Linked DNA regions of Homo sapiens: region 1 is linked to region 2. Evidence: fine-mapped expression QTL. A gene starts in region 2. The other region holds a variant in brackets. All regions are shown on one strand. Distances are from middle to middle.

Region 1 (4,252 bases), 320 kb before region 2:
TACTCTCAAAACTTCTCTAGATTCCAGCTGGAGTCAGTTCCAGGCACCCACGATACAACACCGAACTCACGAATTTCACTGACTTACTCCCCAGTCTCCCTCATGTTCTCACCCCCAGCCCTCAGGGACTCTTCTGTCTCTCTCAGCTACTCTCCAACCATCTCCAGATTTCACCTGGAGTCAGCTTCCCGCACCCAGGAATCACCTACAAACTCACGGACCTTACTGCAACCCTCCCCCATTTCTTTCACCTCTTCACCCCCTGCCTTCAGGGACTCTCCTGGGTCTCCCAGCTTCTCTCCAGCCTTCCCCAGATTTCTGCCACAGTCAGCCCCAGGCACCCAGGACAACCCTAGACACTCACGGGCCACACGAGACTATCTCCCTATGACCTGTACCTATACAGGGATGGCTCCCATGCATCCCTCAGTGACCCCAAACCCATCTCCACTTACACTCAGACACTCCCAGGGCCTGACAGCTACTCCCCGTTATTGTCCTTCAGTTCGAAGCCCTGGCCAATCTACTAGCCCACATGACGCAGTTACCTGGCCATTACTCCACGGTTCCCGTGAGGGCCCCACACCCAGCCGCACAAGAGCCGCTCCTGCATTCCGTCCTCACACGCAGGCCTGTCCATCTACTTGCTACTGTCACACTCTTGCCAGCAGAAGAGGCCCCCGTCATGGCCGATATCACCACCCAGTCTATCCTCACCCCACAGCTGTGCAGCGGGACCCTCCTGCTGGCCCACGTGGCTGACAGAGCCCATGCTGGCACGACGCTCCAGCAGGTCGGCGTCCCTGCGAGACACACTACCGGTGACATGGCTAGCATCACCCTCCTTCCTGGCAGTGACACTGTTGATGTGAACCCCAGTTTCACATCTGTCATTTGGAAATAGGACCATTTTCCCTTTTCGCTCTCCCTTCCATTCACTGGGCTTTTCATTCTCTCTGTTTCTGCCTCCGTTTCAGATATTCACTCACCTTTTTCTCTCTCACTATGTCTGCCGTGGTCTCCATGAGAGTGCGCCACATAAGATTCCCCCATTAAAAGTCATGAATTGAGTGGCTTTTAGTACACCTGTGGTTGTGCACATTCAATTTTAATTCGCAATCCATTGTAGAATGTCTTATCACCCCCGACCAGAGAAAAACCCTGTAGACATTAGTCACTCCTCATTCTGTCTCAAACCCTCTCCCTGACCCTCAGCCCTAGGTAGCAACTAGCTAGTGCGATCAACCACATATGCAGAGATTTCCATATTGTGGACATTTCCTTTAAACGGAATTGCACAATAGGTGAGCTGTTATGACTGACATAACACGTAGCACAATATTTTCAAGATTCCTCCACATTGTAGGCTTACCCACAGGGGGAAACCATATTTTTGGGGGGTTTTAGTAACACCGGGTGTTTTCTCCTTCCTTTCGTCCTTCTTTCCTTCTTTCCTTCCTTCTTTCTTTCCTTCCGTCCTTCCTACCTTCCTTCTTTCCTTCCTTCCTTCCTTCCTCCTATTTCTCTCTTACTCCTTCTGCCCTCTCACTTTCACATGCCTTAGGTGCATCCCACATTCTGCGTTTTCTTGGGGAAATCCTCGACAGGTGCAGGAAAATTGTGTTATTGTAACTATTTACCGCTATCTCTCTTTCACGGCTCTCCATCAGTTGTGAACATCTATTGGTTTATCGCAAGTCACTAAGCATATTTTTATTATGTACACCTGTTTTTCCTTATACAGCTGTTTCTGGAGTATAGGGTCGCATACTCATAAACCCAGTGTAACTCGGAACCGCATCTAATATTCCAATAAACCCATCATAACGTTGAAAAATCATGAATCAAACCATCATAAGTCACGGTTTGTCCATGGATATGGGTGTCATCAATTCCATTGTATACAGTAATGCTGTACACCATTAACAATGGCAGACTGATTGGGAGTGCATATTGATCGCATTATAAAAGTCAGTTATTAGAGGGATACTTCTTTAACCTGACTGAAGCACTGATC[T/G]AATGGCTTTAGTACAGTGCATGATTATGTGAGATGTTTTGAGACAGAGTAATACATTTGTGAATGAAATTTTATGGCTTTTTTTCACTTAGTAGGAACCATTGTGTGTGGAAAAGTGAGAAAATTCCTTTCTGCTGTAGAGTCTGGCATTCATTGTAGATTTAAGATTATTTTTCTGTGAGCAAATCTTATTCAATAAAATGCTACTCTTTATACTAAAAAACAAAAACAGCGGTGATGTGTGGTCATTATCCTCAGCAAACTAATCCAGGGAAAGAAAACCAAACGCCACATTCTCACTTACAATGGGAGCTGAAAAATGAGATGACATGGACACAGGAAGGGGAACAACACACACTGGGGCCTTTCGGGAGGCAGAGCGTTAAGAAAAACAGCTACTGCATGCTGGGCTTAATACCTAGGTGATGGGTTGACAGGTGCAGTAAACCACCATGGCACACGTTTACCTTAGTAACAAATCTGCCCATCCTGCACATATACCCCACAACTTAGAATCGAAACGAAACAAAAGAAAACGAAAAAGCAGTAGCAAAACGCTAAAGGCAAAATAAAGTTTCAAACTCAGAAAGTGACAGACCAATGTTTGGTTCAAATCATGGTTCTCAACCCAGGTGCCATAAGGTCAGGATAAGGAATTTGATTACATATTGTAAATAAGACATGCAGCAAATGACCAGAAAGATTATTCTCAACATATGTGTGTCTTCTAATTCAATGGTGACGCTATCTACCGGGACATAGCATTGGATTCCAAAGGGCCGAGTCCCGCCAGGCAGGCCTCCCACACTAGTAACAACGGGAAGCCCTACGTTGTTTTACCTGTGCTTCTCAGCAACTGGCTATAAATCAGGTTGCCACCACTCCCAGATTTAGTTGCATTCATTTGCTGGAAGAGCTCACGGCACTCGGGGAAACACTTACATTTGCCGTTGTTATTTAGCGGACATTGCAAAAAGTTCAGAAATAAATGTGGGGCCCGGCATGTGGGGAGGGGCGCACTACCTTCCAAGAAGTGTTATACAGAAGCTCTCTGATCCCAGTCCTTTTGGGTTTTTATGGAGACCTCATTCTATAGGCATGATGGGTTAAACCATAGGCTATTGGTGATCAACTCCACCTGAGGCTCTCAACCCTCCCTGGAAATTGGGGTTGAGGCTTTGCCATTCTCAGTCTGAATAAAAGAATTTACCCAAACGGAATTTTAAAACAGATGAGCACAACTGGAATCTTAATTAGATGATTGGATTATCTGGAGCCACACCTTGATATTCCGAACCCGAGCACCCTCATCCAACGAATGCTCCACCCAACTGGCTCCCAAGTCTCCACCTGGTCCCAGAGCAAAAGAATGTTTATACAACGCATATCTCCACCTTTTCTTCAAAGTCTTTTCGCTTACACGGAAAGACTTCTTAAACTGCCATGCATCAGGGTCAGGGGGAGGTCTTGTTACAACACAGATCTGTGGATCTCCGGGGTTTGATTGTGGCAAGGATGCTGCTGGCGTCAAAACCACAACGTGGGAACCACAGAACCACTAGTTGGTTTTCAGTGTTTCAGTGCATACAATTCCTAATATATCTGGCCAAGAAAACTTGGAAGTTCTTAGATTGTTCCAAAGGTGGCGCATGAAATCAAAGTAGAACAGTTTCCTACGAGGTGTAGCCTGGGAAAGTTGGGGGTGACTGACGGAAAGGAGGAGTGAAGCTCCGCCCTTTCCGCTGCTAGGTTGCGCCCGAGGCTATTTAAACCCACGCTGGCTGGCCTGTACTCAGATCTTCGCGGAGCGGATCAGCGGCCGGAGCCTTTGGCGGACTCTGCGTGGACTTGGAGCTCACGGCGTCTTGCGACTTGGAGGCAGATTCAGAGGACAGGACAGAACACTTGGGCAAGTGACTCTCTGTCTGTCTGTCTGTCTGTCTGTCTGTCTGTGTGTCTGTCTCATTGGTTGGTTGATTTCCATTTTCTTAAGGGGCACATACCTCACACCGCACACACACAGACACACACACACGCACACACACTCCTTCCTTCTGCGAGTTAGAAAATTAGTAGGGGCCCCTGGGAGCTGCAGGTTTCCTAATCATGTCTGCACCTAAGAACAGTAGGGTCTTGTCTGGCTCTTCTTATGAACGGTCCCCCAGCCCGGACTCCCCAAGGTCCATGCGAGCCTCACCCAGCTTCTCCTTCTCCGCTCTCAGAAACTCAGGCTTA
Region 2 (4,252 bases):
CTTTCCCCTACTCATTGCAGTGATTTTTAGGTCTTTCTAGTCTGGAAAAAACAATGGAAATGTAAAACACATTGACTCTCAGTCTAGTCTTCCAATTACTAAAGCTCTTCTAAGGCAGTGGTAAGGAAAAGAGAAATCTTTGATTTTTTAAATTCAAATATTTAGTATTCAAAGAACAGTCTACATAATCTCACTTGATTTTTAACTTAAAAAAAACAACTTAAAGAAACTCTTTTAAATCTTACCAATAGTGATTATCCTCAGCAGGGTTAGCATCCACTTCTTGTTAACCAATTTCCAGAAAGGAGTAATTGTTAGGAATATTGGAGAAAGAAATGCTATACTAAAACCTTCAAGCCCAGTGAGTTCTAGTGTTTGCAAAGGAAAGTAATAGATCATCGGTCCCAGGTCATGGTAGAGAGACCAAGAAACACATCCTACAAAAAAAAAAAAAGTTAAAGAGAGAAAGTGTAACTTCAACATTGTTTCTAACGACAGTCCTGTCCCTCCACTCCAGCCGCTTGGGCTGGTCATTCTTCTTCATGACTCTGGCCTGAACTGGGTTCCAGTTGTCTCCACTGACATGGAACAAAACAAGAGCTCTACACCTGTGTAGGGATCCGCAGAACTCACTGCACTGACTGTGTTGTGCTTAAGAGACTGATGGACAGAAAAGCAATGGCAATTTCCTCGTGAAATGTCACTATGTAACACATGACACTGAGTATATCTGTAGGATATATACCCAGAAGTGAAATTTCTGGTGAAATGTACATATTCTCCCACTCCTCGCATCAGGCCCCAGTAGAGGATGGCTTCCTGCTGCCGTGAGTCTCTCAACATCCCTTGCGTGTTCCTTTCCCTTGCCCATATGGCTGTAGACAGTCTCTTTATTAAGTCCTATTCATTTGGACCATCTGAGTTGAATTTGGCATCCCGTCAGGACCCTGACTGACAAAATTTTCTTACCTAAGTTGTCCCCTGTATAATGAAAAATATTGTGAGAGTCCAAAAGGGCAGCAAGCAGCAGGACTCCCTCCTCCAACCCCAGACTACACCCAAAAGCACTTGAGTGAGGCAGCAGTCGTTCCCTTGAGTAGACCATTTTCAGTCCAATCCTTATGAGGCAGTGCTGGGTAGTGGAATACCCAGATCTGAAGTAAGTTGTACCTCTGCCAACAGCTGCTGTATAATCTTGAGCAATAATGATAATTAACGCTATGGGCACTTGCCATGCACTAGGGTCTGTGCTAAGTATTAACATGTACCATCTGTCTCATTCCTTATACAGCCCCATAAGCTATGAGGTGGGTACTATTTCCGCTCCCCTCTTATAAATGCAAAAACTAACTAAGCAAGAACAAAACAACAAACAAAACACTGAGACTCAGAAAGTTAAGTGAGTACCTAAGGTTACACAAGTAGCAAATGTCAGAGTTGCCCTAACTCTAAGCAGCCTGGCTCCAAAGGTAGCCGGTCTAACCACTGGGCGTGGGAACTTTCTACCAACTGACTTTCCAACCTCCCCTTCTTAATCAGCAAAATAGGACTTTCAACCCCTTCACAGTGTTGTTGGGAGGATTAAATGAGATCAAGTGCACTGAGTACCTAGCACCTGAGGTACTTATTGAATGCTAGGCACTGTACATCTCCCAACTTATAGATACAGGCTGAGCCAGAAAAAAATAGTCTGAAGCACTCCCGAGAATTACCAGCTCCCAGAAAATCAAGTTCTCAGGAAGGCGCCCCACCCAGACCAGAGGGATCTTTGTTTTGTAACGAACCGGGGATTCTAGCAATATCCCAAATGTTTGTCTGGGAACTTTGATTTTATTACTCACACAGCTCCGACAGAATTACACCAATAAAATTGTCCTCGGGATTTTGCAAAGCTGGTGAGAGAGCAGATGAGACTCGAGTCTGATGCTTTTCGCCAAATGCCCAAGTGTGCAGCCGACACCAAGGCCACTTGTCCTGGGCCCAGCCCACGGCAGCAGCTGCCGCCCAGTGTCCACCTACAGCTCCTGGGGAAAACGGGTGCCCCTTTCCTTCTGAATTTTAAAGTTCAGCACTGAACTGTATTAAGTTAAACTTAAAGGCCACGGGTGGGGGGCTTTGGGGACGGTACCGGCCGCGCGGGGTCAAGGCCGACACGAGGAGAATTCGCGCTCCTTGGGCACAATCCCAGGGCTGCTGGGAACTCGGGCGACGGGGTCTCTCGCGGGCGCCTCGCAGACTCAGCTTGAAGACTTCAATCTAGGTCTTTTCCTTTATTCCCTTCAGTAGGAAAAGTTCCCAGGGGACGATAAGCATCTCCACTCTGGGCACGGAGCGCCCTTTTCCTCCTACCTGAACTCAGCCAACCTGGCCTGGCTCCACGGCTCTGGACATGGCCCGGGGAGCTGGCACCCGCGAACTCGCGGCGAGGGGCTTCGGCTTACCCAGCAGCGACTCCAAGAGGATTTCTCTCCACAGCGAGGGCATCGCCGCGGCGAGGGGCAGCGCTTTCCAGGAAAGCCGTGCGGGTCGGGCCCGCTGCCCTAGCCCTGCGCCCCCAGGTTCCCGCCGCCGCGTCCTCCCGGGCCTGCGTCCGCGCCCCTCGTTCCCGCGTCCCGTTGCCAAGTGAGCCCCAGCCAACTGACCCACTTGCCGAACCGAGGCAGTGTGGGGCCGGTCCGCCCGCCCCTTCACGACCACACCCAGCCTCGCCTGCCAGAGCCTGGCCAGGCCGGGCGCCACCTGTGCGCGTTGCGCCGCCTCCGGCGCCTCTGGTCCCCGCCTTTGCCTCCTTGGCGCGAGCCCCAGCGGCACCCTTGGCCGGTGCAGGGGACATGCGTCTCGGCTCTGACTCTGCTATTGGGCCCGAACCCGAAGCAACCCCGGGGATGCAGCGCTGCCAGAGCCCAGGAGGGAGCGAACAAGTGCAACTCCGGACCAGTGGTGCCCTCGTTTAGACTAGGCCCACGGGGTGCTCTGCGAGGAGAAGGCAGAGAGGAAGGACCGCTGGAGACCCAGATGGGGACCCTGGAGGAGCAGGTCCTGTGCACCAGCTCCAGCGCCCTGGAAGCCTTAGGGGACCACGGGGCGCGAACCCGACTGTGGCGATCTTCAGGCCAGGGCGACGCATCGGAAGCGTGCCGGCAGGGCCAGGGCCACTGCTGGGCCACTCTCAGCTTTGATAGTAAAAGTGCAATTTGTTAATTGCCTCCTAGCAAAGGGGCCCAAAATTCCAGCGGCTGCAAGATATTCTCAGGGGAGAGAAAGTAACTGATGCGAGTGGAAACCCGGCCCTCCCCTAGTTTATGAATAATGATATTTGAGAGTGCTTATCCCTAAAAAGAAGGTGGGAGACGTTCTGATTAATGTGGAGAGTGAACTAGGCCAGCTATTTCTCGCTCAAATGTATCACACTCCTGGATGTCTTGAACTTGTTTAAGAACCCCTGAAAGCAATTTATTTTAATGCACTTTAATTTCTTAAGGAGAGCTTATTATTTATCAGTTCCAGAAAGTTTGCTCTGAAATTAAACAATGATGGCATGCCCAAAAAGTATTAGAATCACATTAGCAGCAATCATTGCTATTAAGTCCATAGGAGTATTGAGCAAAGAGTTTTTTTCTGTTTTGTTGTGTTTGAGACGGAGTCCTGCTCTGTAGCCCAGGCTGGAGGGCGGTGGCATAATCTCGGCTCACTGCAACCTCCGCCTCCTGGGTTCAAGCGATTCTCCTGCCTCAGCCTCTCGCGCAGCTGGGACTACAGGCACGTGCCACCACACCCAGGTAATTTTTGTATTTTTAGTAAAGACGGGGTTTCACCATATTGGCCAGGCTGGTCTCAAACTCCTGACCTCATGATCCGCCCTCCTCGGCCGCCCAAAGTGCTGGGATTACCAGCGTGAGCCACCGCGCCTGACCAAGTAAACAGTTCTTAATCGGTTAATTACTAGCTCTCTCAATCTCAAGGGTAGATACATAGATTAATGGAATAGAAGTGAGAGACTGGAGATAAAAACCCCCTTTTAGGGTCAAATGAGTTTCACAAACTTGCCAAGACAATTCCACAGGGAAGAGTCTTTTCAAAAAAATGATTCTATGAGTACTATCTGTATGCAAAAGAATAAAGTTGGATCCATATTTCACACCATATACAAATATGAACTCGAAATGGATCAAAGACCTAAATGTAAGAAATAAAACTGTAAAACTCTTGGAAGAAAACATCAAAGTAAATCTTCACGATCTTGAATTAGGCA

Alleles and levels. Alleles are on the strand shown, and positions count from the first base shown. SD is a standard deviation of normalised expression in the study named.
In carriers of allele T in region 1, the expression in sun-exposed skin of the gene that starts at base 2,639 in region 2 tends to be higher than with G alone (moderate effect, 0.69 SD a copy in GTEx).

What was found. PIP is the estimated chance that this variant, and not a neighbour inherited with it, causes the effect.
Region 1: its variant is the best candidate, but not a certain one, in a credible set for the expression of CWH43 in sun-exposed skin (GTEx, PIP 0.86).

What each region holds. Positions count from the first base shown.
Region 1 is chr4:49,299,879-49,304,130 of GRCh38, reverse strand. No RefSeq gene overlaps it. Among named protein-coding and RNA genes, the nearest start is that of CWH43, 320 kb to the right of the region's middle. The variant T/G (reference allele first, on the strand shown) is at 2,018.
Region 2 is chr4:48,984,662-48,988,913 of GRCh38, reverse strand. It overlaps CWH43 (cell wall biogenesis 43 C-terminal homolog), which reads right to left and starts at 2,639. Exons shown (of 16, transcript NM_025087.3): 1 at 2,442-2,639; 2 at 246-437. The coding sequence starts at 2,484.